Linked DNA regions of Homo sapiens. The protein of the gene in region 4 interacts with the protein of the main gene of each other region in a pairwise test. Each region holds a gene or a part of one and is shown on either strand. Other genes may lie near its edges.

Evidence for each region. The genes of interacting proteins can lie anywhere in the genome.
Region 1: the proteins of MAP3K11 (region 4) and KIF17 interact in a two-hybrid assay, tested with the Homo sapiens proteins (one study listed by BioGRID).
Region 2: the proteins of MAP3K11 (region 4) and KIFAP3 interact in a two-hybrid assay, tested with the Homo sapiens proteins (one study listed by BioGRID).
Region 3: the proteins of MAP3K11 (region 4) and KIF3A interact in a two-hybrid assay, tested with the Homo sapiens proteins (one study listed by BioGRID).

The regions. Positions count from the first base shown.
Region 1 is NC_000001.11:20,715,208-20,719,465, forward strand, and holds the start of KIF17 (kinesin-like protein KIF17), read right to left. Parts: upstream 2,801-4,258; 5' UTR 2,500-2,800; coding exon 2,269-2,499; exon of another isoform or gene 2,142-2,268; intron 433-2,141; coding exon 286-432; intron 1-285. UniProt on the Homo sapiens protein: Dendrite-specific motor protein which, in association with the Apba1-containing complex (LIN-10-LIN-2-LIN-7 complex), transports vesicles containing N-methyl-D-aspartate (NMDA) receptor subunit NR2B along microtubules.
Region 2 is NC_000001.11:169,920,829-169,924,695, forward strand, and holds the end of KIFAP3 (kinesin-associated protein 3), read right to left. Parts: intron 2,275-3,867; coding exon of another isoform or gene 2,238-2,274; intron 954-2,237; coding exon 848-953; 3' UTR 501-847; downstream 1-500. UniProt on the Homo sapiens protein: Involved in tethering the chromosomes to the spindle pole and in chromosome movement. Binds to the tail domain of the KIF3A/KIF3B heterodimer to form a heterotrimeric KIF3 complex and may regulate the membrane binding of this complex.
Region 3 is NC_000005.10:132,692,547-132,696,046, reverse strand, and holds the end of KIF3A (kinesin-like protein KIF3A), read left to right. Parts: 3' UTR 1-3,416; downstream 3,417-3,500. UniProt on the Homo sapiens protein: Microtubule-based anterograde translocator for membranous organelles. Plus end-directed microtubule sliding activity in vitro. Plays a role in primary cilia formation. Plays a role in centriole cohesion and subdistal appendage organization and function.
Region 4 is NC_000011.10:65,596,731-65,601,453, forward strand, and holds the end of MAP3K11 (mitogen-activated protein kinase kinase kinase 11), read right to left. Parts: intron 3,039-4,723; coding exon 2,664-3,038; intron 1,899-2,663; coding exon 1,561-1,898; 3' UTR 1,027-1,560; downstream 1-1,026. UniProt on the Homo sapiens protein: Activates the JUN N-terminal pathway. Required for serum-stimulated cell proliferation and for mitogen and cytokine activation of MAPK14 (p38), MAPK3 (ERK) and MAPK8 (JNK1) through phosphorylation and activation of MAP2K4/MKK4 and MAP2K7/MKK7.

The DNA.
Region 1 (4,258 bases), on a different chromosome or scaffold from region 4:
GTGATTGTTACAACCACTTCCTGGCCCAGTGCACAGGGTCAGCAGATCCATGGGAAATGCTCAACTAAGGGTTAGAAGGCAAAAATGGTGAGAGAAAAGCATGGACAGAATTTTCTCTGTTCTAAGTTTTTTTCCCACCACCTTTTCAGAACCCAGAGCCTTCTCTGCTGATCTGCACGGGTCAGGCCGGGCTCCAAAGACTTCCCGTGTCTCTGCCACCTGTCAGAAGTGCTCTGGGCCCAGCTGCAGCTCTGGCCCTGCCCCTTCCCTCTGCGAGGCCCGTACCTGGACGCTCTCGAACACGTGCTCGAAGGCCCTGGGGATGATGCCTCTCTGGGAGGGCGGATCCGGCAGGCCCTGCATGGTGAAGGACTTCCCGCTGCCTGTCTGGCCGTAGGCAAAGATGGTGCCATTGTAGCCCTCAGTGACGCCCTGCATGGGAGGAAGGCAGGACCCCGTGCTCAGTGGAGCAGGCACAGCAGGGCTCGGGACAGGGCTCCCTAACCCACAGACTCAGGGCCCTTCCTGGTCCCCCCACCAACAATGGCACTGGACTGTGGAGATAAACAAGGCGCAGCTCTGTCCTCAAGGAGTTGACTCTCTGGTGGGGTAGGAGCTGTCCCTGTGTGTGGATGGGGAAGAGCCTGAGCTGTGGGCTTGGCCCCCTGGGCTCACATCCATCTCCACTTTACTGACCGTGTGCCCTTGGGCTGGCCTTACTGAGGCAAATTGATAAGATGATAAGAAAAACACCTTGGGCCAGGCGGGGTGGCTCATGCCTGTAATCCCAGCACTTTGGAAGGCTGAGGTGGGCAGATTACCTGAGGTCAGGAGTTCAAAACCAGCCTTGGCAACACGGTGAAACCCTGTCTCTACTAAAAATACGAAAAATTAGCCGGGTGTGGTGGTGAGCTCCTGCAGTCCCAGCTACTCGGGAGGCTGAGGCAGGAGAATTTATTGAACCCAGGAGATTGCAGTGAGCCGAGGTCGTGCCACTGCACCCCAGCCTGGGCGACAGCGCGAGACTCCGTCTCAAAAAAAAAAAAAAAAAAAATCAATATCTTAAAGGGTAAGAGCAGCACCTGCGGGGCTCTCACAGGGTGCATACAGGGCTTCTTTCGTGCATGGGCACAGGAAGCACTGCCATACACAGGTGATGGCCCAATGTCTGCCTGCAATGCAGGGAGCTGGACACGTACAGGTGATTCTCGTGGCGGGCTATGGGGCGGGGCACACAGCGACAAGAGTCCAGGCAGCCAGCCGGCAGGGACAGGGAGTACAAAGAAGCGAAAACAGGATGGCACAGGAAGAACGAAGCACAGCTTTCCAGGCGGCAAAGACAGGGAGAACTGGGGGAGCTGGGAGTGGGGCTCGTACTTTGCCAGGTGACAGGAAGAGGAAGGCATTCCAGGCTGAGGGGTCAGCTTGAGTAAAGCCACACAGATGAGGTGTGGAGAGCAGGAGGGACTAGGGGAGGGGTGGAAGATGAGGCCTGGAAGGAAGAGAGGAGGCAAACCCGGTGCTGTTCCCAAAGTCATTCCCAAAGTCATTCTTCATTCATCGCTGTTTCTATTCATTCGACAGGGACTATGCTCAGCCTACGGACAAAGTGGTGAACGAGGCAGACACAGTTCCTGCCCTTGCAGAGCTCATGAGCTTGCAAATTCTAGACCTTAGTGTGGGCTTGGGGTGGATCCTGTATGGGTAGATTGGCCCAGAGAATTGTTCTGAGACCCCAAGGGCCCACATGGCATCTATGCCCGGTTCCACTGCAAAGACCCATGCTGTAACCAAAACAGGGCTAGGTGTGCCCCATCTTGCCAGTGAGGGAAGATAAAAAGTCACCATTCGGCCGGACGCGGTGCCTCATGCCTGTGATCCCAGCACTTGGCGGGCGGATCACTTGAGGTCAGGAGTTCGAGACCAGCCTGGCCAACATGGTGAAACCCCATCTGTACTAAAAACACAAAAATTAGACGGGCGTGGTGGCAGGCACCTGTAATCCCAGCTACTTGGGAGGCTGAGGCAGGAGAATCGCTTGAACCCGGGAGGCGGAGACGCTGGGGATAGTGCAGACCCGGAGGCGACATTAGAGGCAGGCTCTGGTTGTGTCCCGCCTGGACAAAAGCCTCCGGACCTACCTGTTCCCGTCCGCCTGCGCCCCTCGAGGGCCTTTCCTCCTGGCTGGGGGGCAGCGCAGCCCCCTGGGGACTCTCGGGGCGGCCTCATGCCCTGCCGCCTGCAGGGCGGCCTGCCGGGCGCCCTCACCTCCACCAGCGGATAGGCGATCTCGTTGTAGATCTGCTCGGTGACGTGGTCCACGTGGTAGGCGCCGTCGAAGGTGAACTGCTTGGGCGGCTCGTCGGCGGCGCCCGGGTTCTGGATGCAGCACTGGGCGCGCGCGCAGTCCACAGTCACCACGGGCTGGCAGCGCAGCTCTCGCTCCCGCTGGTTCATGGGACGGCAGCGCACGACAACCTTCACCGCCTCGGAGGCCATGGCGCCGCGCCCAGGACCAACGGGACCAGAGCTGACCCCCGCCCCGCCGGGGACTCCCAGCAGCCCGGGCCAAGGGGCGGGGCCAGCGCCGGCCACGGGGGGCGGGGCCTTGAGGCAGGGGCGGGGCCGCGGCGGGGGGCGGGGACCCCTCGGGGGGCGCCCCGGAGGGGAGCTGGGCGTCGCAGGACCCGAGCCGGGGCCGCCGCTTCCTCCCGCGCCCGGGCTCGCCCGTTTCTGAGGCCCGGCCCGAGCGGGGACGTGGGGGATCCGCGCTGCAGGCGCCGCCGCAGAACCCGAGCCCGGAGCCGCCCCAGCCGCCTGCCCGCAAGCTCACCGCCGCGGCGTTCGCGGTTGCTGGGCAACGCCCGTGGCGTCACAAGAGCGGCCCCGGGAACGCCCCGCCTGGCCCGCGAGCTTCGCCCGAGTGATCCCCGCAGCCACGCGCGGCCGCTTGCGGGAAGCGCCAGCCCTGGCTGGGCTCCTTTCGCGTCCGCTGCCTTCTCGAATCCGCACAGTCCCAGTTCAGAGATGTTACGCAGCTTGCCCGAGGCTGCGGCTAAGACTGGGGCCCGGGGCCCCAGGCTTGACTCCACCTCGGGGCTACAGAGATCCCAGGCCTCAGGCACGGGCCAGGGACCTAGGAAAAGCGGCAAGGACCTGTTGCCCCTTATCCACGTCCCCGTACTGGCTCAGGGAAAGGCTGCCCACCACCCACAGCCCCTGGACAGCTTCCTCTCATGCCACCCGTGTTATTTCTAAGACCCGAGATTGTAAAACAAACACTTTGGGAGCAAGTCTTTTGGGCCGGGCGCGGTGGCTCACGTCTGTAATCCCAGCACTTTGGGAGGCCAAGGCGGGTGGATCACCTGACATCAGGAGTTCGAGACCAGCCTGGCTAACATGGTGAAACCCGCGTCTCTGGTGGTGGGCACCTGTAATCCCAGCTACTCAGGAGGCTAAGGCGGGAGAATCACTTGAACCCGGGAGGCAGAGGTTGCAGTGAGCTGAGATTGCATCATTGCACTCCAGCCTGGGCAACAAGAGCAAAATTCCATCTAAAACAAACAAACAAACAAAAACAAGTCTTTTGGATGGAAGGCTGCCTGGCCTATCCCTCCTGGCTCAGTGCAAGTTCCCCAGCCAAAAGAGCACCTCCGTCACACCTCTGGGCGCTGGGCTCTTCCTTGCACTGAAACACTGAGTGTCGGCTACATGTCAGGCACCGTGACAGATGTTAGGGAGACAGCCCTCCTGCATGATCTAGCTGGAGAGACAGACACAGGAAACAAAATCCCACAAACAAAATCCCGAAAACGAAAATGTAATTACAAGCTGAATAATCAGTTCCATGCAACATATCTTTTTTTGAGACAGGGTCTTGCCCTGTCACTGAGGCTGGAGTGCAATCATAGCTCACTGCTGCCTCAACCTCAGGAGGTCTCAAGCGATCCTCCTAACTCAGCCTCCCGAGTGGCTAATTTTTTGTAGAGATGGGATCTCATTTTGTTGCCCAGGCTGGTCTCCAATTTCTGGACTCAAACGATCCTCTCACCTCGGCCTCCAAAAGTGCTGGGATTACTAGCACGAATCACTGCACCCAGCCTATGGAACATCTAAAAAAGGAACCTCACTCAGCCCAGGGTGTAGGGCAGGCATCCTGAGATTGACTGGAGCTGAAATATGATGGCTGAGTGGTTAACAAGGTGAAGGGAAGGGAGGAGGAGGAGGACGCCGGTCTGGGCTGTGCGGAGGTCCTGTG
Region 2 (3,867 bases), on a different chromosome or scaffold from region 4:
AGAACAAGTGAACAATTGGGAACTGGGTACCCAAGTGAGTGAAATATTCTGTTCCTTAGTTTTCCTTAATGCGACTTTTAATTAGCTTTCCCATGCTTTAGATACTAAATTTATGAAGAATAAAAGTTAAAAGCCAAATGCTAATCTTGTATCACTGCTTGTCTTGTATACTACTTGTCCTAGGATTTCTATATTACAACTAGGAAGATATGAATTAAAACCACCAAAGAGACTATAACCATAAATAACTTATGACATATGTTCCATTATTAATTGAAAACTCATAGTTAATAAACTTTGGGAAGGAAACTTTCAGGCACATGGCATGGAATATGAAGGTGATGTTCTTTTTATAAATTTTAAAGGTAGCATATATTATACAAATTACTCAAGAGTTTACAAGCAGAAAAAAAGGAGAAAAAATAAAATTCACGCGCACCCTATATTAACATGTAATTCGTAGTGAAATGTGTGAAATATAAACACATGACTTTCACTTATTCATTTTCACTTTACGCTTTTTAATTGAAATTAAATTAGTCACTTAACATACATAATGCAGTGTTTGTTTTCCAGTCTAGTAGCTTTTCAGCATTCAGTTTTGTGGCTCATGGGAAATGTTACTTAGCATCAAGATGTGGTTTGATGAGTGAACAATGTCAGTATCAACTGTACTTAACAGAAGACAGAGGGGCTGGGGTTAATCTGCAGCTAACAACATATAAAAATAAAAACAAACACAGACCCACAATAACATCAACATGCATTATTAGGCAAAGATCCAAAATTAACCCAACCCACACAGATTTCTTCTAAGCTGAGATTACACATGGAAACAGATACTTTATCAAGATCCATAGCCATAGTAGTAAGGTTCATCAGGGCGGAATCCATATGCTGTGGCAGGGCGTCCAAGAATGCCAACTGGTTGGCCAAAGCCATCCATTCCAAGGCTAAAAAAGAAAAAAAAGAATGATAAGCTATGTTTTTCATCACACATCCACAATGCAGATTAAGAGGCCTACATTTTTATACCACCAAGATTCTCTTCCTAGCAGGGATAGTGATTTAGGTGGATATCATTAACTTTTTTTTTTAAGGTTAATAGAGCCATTAAAAGTGTATATAATAAAATACTTCTAACAATGTGTGTTAAAAGTATGGGAAACCTCTGTCAGTAGGTACTATTTGAAACAAAGTGGAAGAATCAAATCAGAAAAGTTTTATTTAATAAATTACTTATATATGGCTCTTAAGCAAAAATATGAAAAGATTTTACATGCTAGCAATGATCAGTAATATATTGCTAGGGAATGATAAAAATAAAACTGTAGTAAAGTGAGTTTTGCTGTTTATAATGTCTTTTCATATGAAGATACAGGACTAATTCCACTTTTAGTAAAAACATGTGTTTGAGTTATATCAGTGAACTCTCATGCAGGGCCAAATCATACCATAAGCCTATGATTAAAAGAACAAGATAAGGAATTTGACAAAATTTGAAAATTAGTCAGATTTGATCTGCAAATCCTTCCTCTGATTCCTCAATGCAAACAATTACAAAACATATCTATTTCTTTTGAGTGACAGCAAGACAATTACAAATTTTGGTTCAACTTATTCTATGGGAATAACAGAAACCCAAAGATAACCTTCAGAGTTGTAAAGATAGCTTGAAGTATGTTAAACTTCATGATTATTATTTTAAAAAAATTACTTGTTGGTCTATTAATACATTATTTAGAGGAAAATCTGTTCTCCAAAGTCCTTTTTAAAGGTCAGGGAATTATCCAACACTTAGGAAAATGATAAAGTATTTATTTTGCCAGGCAGAACATGGTGGCCTTAACATGCTCATGCATAGCTCATGCAGTGAATGCTAGTGAGCTTGACTTCCAATCAATGGACACCATTTGTAATGCAGAAATGTAAGCTTTGGAAAAATAAAACATATTTAAATGATTTAAGATTTAAGTTTGCACTACATGAGATGGAAAGATAATTTTCCCTCAATAGCAAAAACTGAATGTGATGAAAAAATATATTCACATAGGCACTAACTCCCTGTCACACTCAGAGTGAGATTAAGTTGACACACTTTAGAAGTAACTATTAAAATGTTAAGGTTTTAAATAAATGTGTGAATGCGTGTGTGTGTTTGTGTGCACGCGTGCTTGTGTGTATTAAGATGGAACTAAAGAGTAAATGTAAAGAGCCAAAATACATATAACACATACTGGTCCAGTGACTCTGCCCTTTAGGAGAATGGAAGTTCTGAAATACAAGTTTCAGGTTAGCATTTGTACTGAGCGATTCTGGACAAAATTTGTTGTTTTGGGGTCCTTCTATATAAAAACTCTGTCTATAGTTTCTCAAAGTTGGTTGAAATTTTTAAGTCTACATTTTATTTTGAAATGGTAAAAATATAGGCACTTTTTCTAACTTTGATCTCATGGGAAGAGAGACTAAATTTTGTGATGAGGAAATCAAGAGGTAGCTTAAAAGATGCTTCAGAAATTAGTGGAATCAGTGAACTAAGAGACACTGGTATCAGCTTAAAATTAGAGAAGTTATTGAAAACTGTTCTCTGCAAGCACTAAGGCTAACAAGTAATCATGTATCTAAAGAACTCTCAATTATATAACTGTTGATTACATAGCTTGGATTTCAACTTGTTCCTTCTTCATCTTTTGCTTATTACCTGTCTTCAACCAGTCCTTATCTTTTTTAGCAACTCCTCTGAGGCCAAATAGCAGTAGACTTAGGTTAAACTCAAGTTAATCTTATGCTTGTTTCTCAATCTAGGGGCTATGGCAAGATCTATTTCAGTAATATGAAAACAAGAGGCATATGTGGGACAGTGAGGAAACATGCAAAGGCACCTTCAGAGTATCTCACAGACGACTTGTTAGCAATATCACTGTAATTCTACCTAAAAGAAGATGGTCCTCAGAAGGGAGTTCACCAGTCATTGGCACAGAACAAGGAGCGTCTCAGCTACAACGCTGGTTGTAGCAACCTAGGCAATTGCGTGGTGATCTGGTAAGCTATAACACCATAAGGAATATCTGGCCTTTTTGCAGTTTGGTCCTCAATCAGGAAGGGAATTTAACATTCTCAGAGTCTGAGGCCATTCTACATTCAAGTTGCAAAATTCTCCCCCTTTTTTTTATTTCTACGACTAATAGGCAAACTATTGATCACTGTAATTTCCCATGTAATTTGCCAACAGGTTAAATAATAAACTTAGATATTACCTAATCCACCTGATGGTTATAACTTTCATTGTACATTAACAAATGGATTTTTCTTTTTAAAATATGTCATGCACATTGTTGATAAAAACCTGCAGTCCCAAGTCAGTGAAAGACTGGCCCTTGAGCACTGATGAGTCTGAGTTTCTGAACCTGTAAATCTCTGGTCTTGAACAGTATGGTCTTTAGGTTACTATGGTAAAGATCTATTTATGTAGTCAGCAGTTCACCCAGAGACATCTGTGTGTATTACAGTGTAGAGGATATCATTTAATTTTTCGAATTTCTATATACAAATATCGTTTTGGAAAAAAGGAATAAAATTTGAAACCAAACTCTAAAATGATCTTTTCTGGAATTCTCCATTATGTATCACAGATGAACTTGCTGTTTAAAGCAAAAAATATTTAAAACATTTATGATCAGTTTGGAGAGTACTTTGACATAGGTCCTAGGTCCTTTTGTATTATGAAAAATCAACTATATCTACATACATTTTTAATTAAATTCACTGTGAAACATAACAGTTTGTTTCTTTAAACTCTCATTTGCTTCTTTCTAATATAGTGGGGGAAATCAGGCTTTCTAGGATGCTAAAACCTGGAGACATTCT
Region 3 (3,500 bases), on a different chromosome or scaffold from region 4:
TGCGAGTATACATGTTTTTTAACAAGTTGAAAATGTTTCATCTGAACCTTTCCTAACTTTTTTTTGCCAGTTTGAGTTCAAATCAAATACACCTTAAGTTCTGGTTTCATGTTCTCTTGAAACATTGAATTGTACGTAAATATAAAGGATCTACTGTTGCGGAAAATTAAGAAGCTAAATACTGCTCAGTTATCTTTGCCTGCGTGTATATTTTTAAAAATTCACTCTGAAGTGTTATGGATGCTTTTCTTTGAGTTCTAAATTTTGGTGGGAATTACTTTATGTCTCCCAGTTAAGAAGAGTCTCCATTTTCCAGAAAATACAGCTAAGCAAGAAAAATATCTTTTAAATACTTTGCCTTTAAAACACTTTTTTATTTTGTTTTTCTATTTTAAAAATAAAATATTATTTTCTGAATTTCTTCTATTGGGTAATCCAGTTAGACCATATTCCTCTACAAATAAAAACTATGTTGATTTCATAGTAAAGTAAGTTGTAATAGAGATAATTATTTTTTTCTGTTGTTAGCTGCTTATGAAACTTTTATTGTATTTTTTTAAAGTTATGCTACTCCTGGCCGGGCATGGTGGCTCACGCCTGTAATCCCAGCACTTTGGGAGGCCGAGGCACGTGGATCACTTGATGTCAGGAGTTCGAGACCAGCCTGGCTAACATGGTGAAACCCTGTCTCCAGTACAAATACAATAATTAGCTGGGTGTGGTGGCGCACACCTGTAATCCCAGCTACTTGGGAGGCTGAGGCAGGAGAATCACTTGAACCTGGGAGGCGGAGGTTGCAGTGAGCTGAGATGGCATCACTGCACTCCAGCCTGGGTGACAGGGTGACACTCCACCTCAAAAAATAAAAATAAAATAAAAATAAAGTTATGCTACTCCTAAACCACTTAATATATGTTTTGTGGTTTTCAAAATTATGTAATCAGCCCTGAAACACATTGGTTGAAAATATTTTGAGACTTTATAAGTTAGTATTTATTAAATTAATATTATTTTAATAAGTTTTGTTAAATCCTAGTTTAAATGACAAAGCTGTGTATAGAGTAGGGGTGAGTGAAGGTGGAGTACTCTTGAGGTGGCGATAAAAATGTACCCATAAATTTAAAGTCCATTCTGTAATTGGAATACTGAATGTCCTGTGTGTGGTGAACATTTTCTAGGTGATTAGAATTGCATTTCACTGGCTGCATTTGTTTGTGGTATGTAAGATAGCTAGAAATTTATTACTTAACTCTGTGGGGCATTGTTTAGATACTGTGAAGAGTTGAGGTAAATATGTGTCTTGTAAAAGCTTTGTGTGATCAGAATATTTTGGTAATTATAAAATGTTTTTGATGATACACATTTAACTCTGTTAGTAATTACTCTAAAGAAATCTTAATTTTACCAGTTTAAAAAAAACGCTTCTTTTTAAAAGTTCATGTTTCTAACCTTTAACAATTCAGTTAATAGGAAAGGAGTAACTTTTAAATCAAGCTTTAAAACATGGAAATTTAAGCCAGTATGTTAGATATTTTTTCTATCCCACCCTACCATGATAATAAAAATAAATCTATAAAAAGTCAAAATAAAAAGCCGATCTATAAAAAGTCAATTGAGAAGTTCTAAAAGCAGGCTACTATAGCAGGGGTGTTTGTTTTTTGTTTGGAGACGGAGTCTGGCTCTATTACCTAGGCTGGAGTGCAGTGGGACAATCTCGGCTCACTGTAACCTCTGTCTCTTCAGCCTCCTGAGTTGCTGGAACTACAGCTGTATGCCATCATGCTCGGCTAATTTTTGTATTTTTTTGTAGAGATGGGGTTTTGCCATGTTGCCCGGGCCTGTCTTGAACTCCTAGAGCTTAAGTGATCCACCCGCCTCAGGCTCCCGAAGTGCTGGGATTACAGGCATGATTATAGGCCTGAGCCACCACACCCCGCCTACTATAGCAGTTTTTTAAAAAAAGCATTATGTTAAAACTGATTATACCAGATGGACATTAAATATCCATCTCAGAAATACCAAAATTTGATACATAAGCCTGGCCTGAATATCTTTTTTTTTTTTTTGAGACGGAGTCTTACTCTGTCGCCCAGGCTGGAGTGCAGTGGCGCGATCTCGGCTCACTGCAACCTCTGCCTCCTGGGTTCAAGGGATTCTCCTGCCTCAGCCTCTTGAGTAGCTGGGATTACAGGTTTGCGCCACCACACCCAGCTAATTTTTGTATTTTTTTTTTAGTAGAGACCGGGTTTCACCATGTTGGCCAGGCTGGTCTCACCTGACTTTGTGATCCGCCCGCCTCAGCCTCCCAAAGTGCTGGGATTACAGGTGTGAGCCACCACGCCTGGCCTCAAGCCTGGTCTGAATATCTATATGCAAATATGGGACACTGACTTCAGAGCTATTCATTTAGCTCCAGTCATAGCAATTCTGTAGTTTCCTCACATTTACTGTGTCTTTGTCCACAAATGAAATATGTTGTAAGGTCAGTGTTAATTTCGTGAGACGATATAGATGAACACACTTGCTCATTTTTTGAAATAAATATGCAGATTTAAAATGAGTGGCACATATATATAAATAGGTTATTGAATGGGTATTCTCTTTTCCCTTTAATTTAAAAAGTGATATTTATTTATTAAAAGGAGCATTGGTAGAATTATTGGTTTATAGTATCTTCTTTAATAATCCTTACAATTACATATACTAATAGGATGTTAAAATTATCATCGTGTTTCCTATTTGTGTTTAGATTCTTATAAAGCATGAGATGAGTAATCAAGGGAAGGGTCGCATCTCCATGTTTGCCCCATGAATAGAATCCATTTGACAAGCCATTTCATTTCCTTTCTGGAGAAAGGGAGTTGTTTTTTTTTTCTTTTTACAGCAAAAATTTAAGGTTTTATTGGGGGAGGGGGTGGTGCTACTTCCTCTGTAACATGTTTTTAAAACTATGATTATGGTTTTTGGTTGTTTTTTGTTTTGTTTGTTTCCTTTTAGTCTGTTTTTAATATCCTTCCCCTTAACTCTTAAGGAAAGTCTTCTTTCCTACAGGGCTGTGAATTAAGGAATGGGTAGCGTTTACATTTAAGTACACCAATGTCTGCCCAATTTCCTAATGTATACATTTGTTTTATTTTAAATTATTTTTTGTTCTTAAAAATACTAGAAGAAAACATAGATGTTTCTAGTGCCTTTGAACTTATACTGTAGTCTGACTAATTTAATGAATAACTTCAGTAGCATTACTATAATACTGTATGCTGGCCAAAATTACAAATTACAGTTTGTTGCATCAGTTTCAAAAGCCATGCTTTCATTGTATTTTATGTATAAATTGTATTTGTTCAAGTTGTATATATTGGTATTGTATGTATACATGCAGCATGGTTAAATAAGAATAAAAATCTTTTACCTAATGCCTGTAGTAGTGGTCTGCTGCTTTTCTCAACTATCTTTGTGGTTACTTCCACCCTGATATTAATGAGCAGGTTCTTTGTGCT
Region 4 (4,723 bases):
GGGGGAGCCTGGGTTCCAACTCCTCTAACGTCAGAGGGGCTGAGGACAGAGGCCAAGGAAGGGACCCAGCCCTAGGGTATGGTGTGGGAGTGCCAGAGCCCCCATGGCAGTGTGAAGAGAATGGACAGAGGCCGAGGGAGGGACCCTGCCCTAGGGTATGGTGTGGGAGTGCCAGAGCCCCCATGGCAGTGTGAAGAGAACTGTCAGGGGTGCCAGATGCCATGGCAAGTCACCATACTGGGAGGTGGGTGGAACTTACTACTCTTTTTTTTGAGATGGAGTCTCGCTCTGTCGCCCAGGCTGGAGTGCAGTGGTGCAATCTCGGCTCACTCAACCTTCGCCGCCCGGGTTCAAGCTATTCTCCTGCCTCAGCCTCCCAAGTAGCTGGGGCTACAGGCACCTGCCACCACGCCTGGTTAATTTTTGTATATATATATATTTTTTTCAGTAGAGACGGGGTTTCACCATATTGGCCAGGCTGGTCTCAAAATCCTGACCTTGTGATCTGTCCGTCTCGGCCTCCCAAAGTGCTGGGATTACAGGCGTGAGCCACCATGCCCGGCCTATGGTTTTTTGTTTTTTTTTTTTTTGAGACGGAGTCTTGCTCTGTTGCCCAGGCTGGAGTGCAGTGGCGTGATTTTGGCTCACTGCAACCTCCACCTTCCAGGTTCAAGCAATTCTCCTGCCTCAGCCTCCAGAGTAGCTGGGACTACAGGCATGCACCACCACACCTGGCTAATTTTTGTATTTTTAGTAGAGATGGGGTTTCACCATGTGGCCAGGTTGAACTCCTGACCTCATGTGATCCGCCGGCCTCGGCCTCCCAAACTGCTGTGATGACAGGAGTGAGCCACTGCACCTGGCCGAGAAGAGCCTTGAATGACTGACCAAGGCTGGTGGATTTGGTCCCAGGAGAGGCATGCAGTACAAGGCATCCAACTGCCTATTGTTGGGGCATCAGGACACCAGGGTTGTATGATAGGTTGGGTCACCTGGTTACCTCCAAGAAAGGTGACAGGCTACATGTGGGGAGACAGCTTTTGAGTTTATTTGGCTTCTGGCTTCACTGGATCCCGAGGCTAAGACTCCAACCCTGGCTGGGGCAGCAGGAAGGCATCCAGAGAGCCCTGGCCCCAGATGACCCCCAGGGCAGGAGGTCCATGCTCTAAGCCCTAGGGCAGGGGCCGCAGTAGCAGGACTTGGTCAAAAGTGCTGGTGACAGCTGAGGCCGGCCCCTCTTCCCTGCACCTCCCCTCCTCCCTGCATCACCCCAGCAGGCAATTCCCTGAGACAGGCTCTGGTCCTCCCAACCAGCTGGGTACAGTGTTGGGCCCCAGTAGGGCAGGTGAGCTGGGGGGACCTACAGGTTTCAGATGTGGGGGCGCAGGTCCCCCTTCCAGTGTGAAGGCTTCCTGTGCAGTGTAGTGTTCCTGACCCCCAAAGGGGGGTGGGGTCCCTGGGGAAACTGAGGCAGCTGCAGAGGCTGACCCAGCTCCTGTTCCAGTGTATGCTGTGACTCCTCCTAAGGCAGCTGGAGCTCGGGGGAGTGGCCTGGCCCACTCAAGGCCCCGCTTCCGGCACCCACGGGGCCTGGGCACCCATGTCTTTGGTCTGTGCCCTGCAGTCCTGGGGGCCCCCCTGGAAGGGGTTGGCAGGTGGGGAGTCCCAGAAGGGGTCTGAGTCCGGGAACAAGGTCCAGGGTGCTCGGCGGGGTGCAGGCTGTGGTGATGGCAGGGGAGAAGGCCGTGGCCCAGCTGACACAAAGCTCCAGGGATCAATGCGGCTGCGAAGGGGCGAGGGCCGAGGTCGGCTGATGAGGCCCAGGGGTGGTGAACGTGGGGTGCCTGGGGTGCCAGGAGCAGAGCGTGATGTCCCCGGTGGGGGTGAGACAGTGCCTCCTGTGAGGATATAGGAGGGGCACAGGGTCAAGCAACCCCCAACTGCTGAGGTCCCCAAGACACTGTCCTGCTCTGGGCCTCAGTTTCCCCATGTGCACAGTGACCTACTTGACTCAACTTCCACCGCCCTTCCTGCTCCGTGGTGCCTCTGTTTTTTGTAATAGTTAGGAGTGAGGCCTCTGCAGCAGGCTGGCCTGGATGTGGATCCCGGCCCTGCCACTTACTAGCTGTGGGAGCTGTGGGTCCCTTAATCTCTGTGCCTTAAATTTCCTCATCTAAAAATGGGCATCCAGGAGCGCTTAGTTCTCTGGTTGTTATGACTAAATGAGACCATCTCGGGAAAGCCTTGCAAACAGTACTTGGCACAAGTAAGGAGCCAGGAGTTTGCTACGATTATGATTACATGTATGCTGTGTCGCCCAGGCTGGAGTCCAGTGTCATGATCACCGCTCACTGCAGCCTCAACCTTTCAAGGCTCACGTGATCCTCCCAGAGTGCTGGGATCACAGGCGTGCACCACTGCCTGGCCCGATTACTTCTTTTATTTCACAGCAGGCATCGCCCCCACCTGCCTGGACCACCTGATAGCTGAACTTAGAACTCTGCTCCCTACATGCGTCTTCAGTACCCCGAATGCCTGGTTCAGGGTCCAGCTGATGACTGTGGTCTCGGCCTTGCCTCCTTGCATGTCCCCACCAGCCACTCCTCCCTCCCTGGGAACCCCCGTCTCCCATATGTGAAGCAGGCCGGCTTCAGGCCACTCACCGCGGGGCTCCTCCTCACGTCGGGGGCTCTTGGCTGACCGCTGGCCCACAGGGATACCCAGGTCCAGCAACAGGGGTGCAGGAGTGGGCGGGGAGTCGGGCGTCTTGAGCGAGAAGCAGATGAGCGGGGAAGGGGGCGGCTCGGTCGGGCAGGGCGCGGGCGTTGGCGTGGGGGGTGTTGTCGGGGACTCCCCGCGCTCGCGTCCTGGGCCTCCCGGCGGCTGCAGGTCGCGGCCAAGGCCCAGCGAGGCGAGCAGGGCGGTGCCGCGCAGCAGCGCCCGCTGGATCAGCTTGGGCGTCCCAGAGCTGCTACCGCGCTCTGCGGGGACAGGCCTCTTGGGCTCCTCGGGCTCCAGGCTAGGCCGCGGGGGGTTACCTGCGGGCAGAGGCGGCACAGGTGAGGGTGTGGCTGGTGCATATTCCGGGTGAGGGCCCAAGACCTCTCCGTGGTCTTGGAACAAGGACTGAGTTCTGCCCTCTACTAGCATCTTCCCTGGTCCCACAGGTCCCATGGCCTCCCCATCACATACCCACATTCTGGCCTTTCACAAGATGGGCACTGGGAGGGGAGGGCAGTGCAGGTGGAGGAAGCGGCAGCAAAGCCCAATGGCAGCCAGCGACCCCAGACCCGAAAGATGGATGGGCAGTCCCAGTGGAGGCAGGCTGGGGCCAGGTCACAGTGGGCCTCTGTGGCCTGCCAGGGGCAACCTCCAGGCCCAGGGGCATGGCAGGTCCCACTGACTGGGACCGGCGCCCTGTGCTCTGTGCCCACCAGCTTCCTGGCTTGGCAGCCCTGCCCCTTCTGCCCACCCACCCCCGCTCCAGCTGTAGCTTATAAGATGCACACAGTCAACTCTAAGGTACATGGCAGCCCTGAGGGCATAAATCCCTGTCTCTATTCTAGAAAGGAGGAAAATGAGGTTCAGAGGGGTCAGTACCTTGCCCAAGGTCACAGCTAATTTACAGAGTATGTATTTGTGCCAGGCCTGAGCTGAATGGCATAGGGGCATTATGTTGTCTGATTCTCATGCCCCAGGGGTTCCAGGCTCAGAGAGGTTGAGGGCTTGTGCGGAGCTGTACAGCCAGTGAAAGGTGGAGCCGGCCTCACCCCAGGCAAGGGCAGTAGAACCTTTGCTCTCCACCATTTCCCAGCCAGACTCTGCCCTAGATTTCAAGACACTAGTGTCCTACCTTCCAGTCTAGGGTTGGCCTGACTCCATTCTAGACCACTTGGGCAGGGATGGGGAACCCCTCATTAAGGACAAGGGACTCTAGGATGGGCTCTCACAAGCCCTGATTTTGTCAGATCCCTCCTTGGCTCTAGAAACTGCTGTGGCTCTCCACTGTCACTAGGAGAAAGTCTGGCCTCCTTGGCTGGTCCTCTGAAGCCCTCCCTGGCCTTGTCCCTCTGCCTTTCCCCTCCTGCCTGGAGTGCAGCAGCAGGTTGGATGTCGGGAGGGAGAAATACAAGGCTGGGAAAAATGAGCTTCTACTATGAACCAGGACTTAGCTCACAGTCCCTTCTGTCAGCCCCAACCCTTACTCAGACTCTCTGCCTCTTACCTCACCCAACTCCCACCCCGGCCACTGCCACTGAAGGGACAAGGGAATCCTTCTAAAATGCAAACCTGTTAAAGACAGGTCTCTGCTTAAAAACTACCCATCACTTCCAGCTTCATTCACTCATTCATTCAATCAACATCTACTGACCCATGTGCCTTGGCCCCTGTCCGCAGCCCCAGTCCTGAGACTCCTCGGCTCTCAACTCTTCTCGGAGTTCAGCCAGGTTGCCTTTTCCTTGGGTATGGTGAGCTGCATGCCTGCGCACACACTATTCACTCTGGGTGGCTGACCTTTCCCACCTTGGCTTTCAGTGACCTCTTATGCACCATCCAAGACCAACTGGGATGTCACTTCCTCTGTGAAGCCCTCCCAGAATCTCCCTGAACCTACACAGTTATTGCTCACGTTATGCCTCATAGAGGTGCTACTGGACTTGTTTATGAGTCTGCCTGCTTCATCATATGAGGTCAGGGCAGTGTTTAACATGTTGATGCCTGG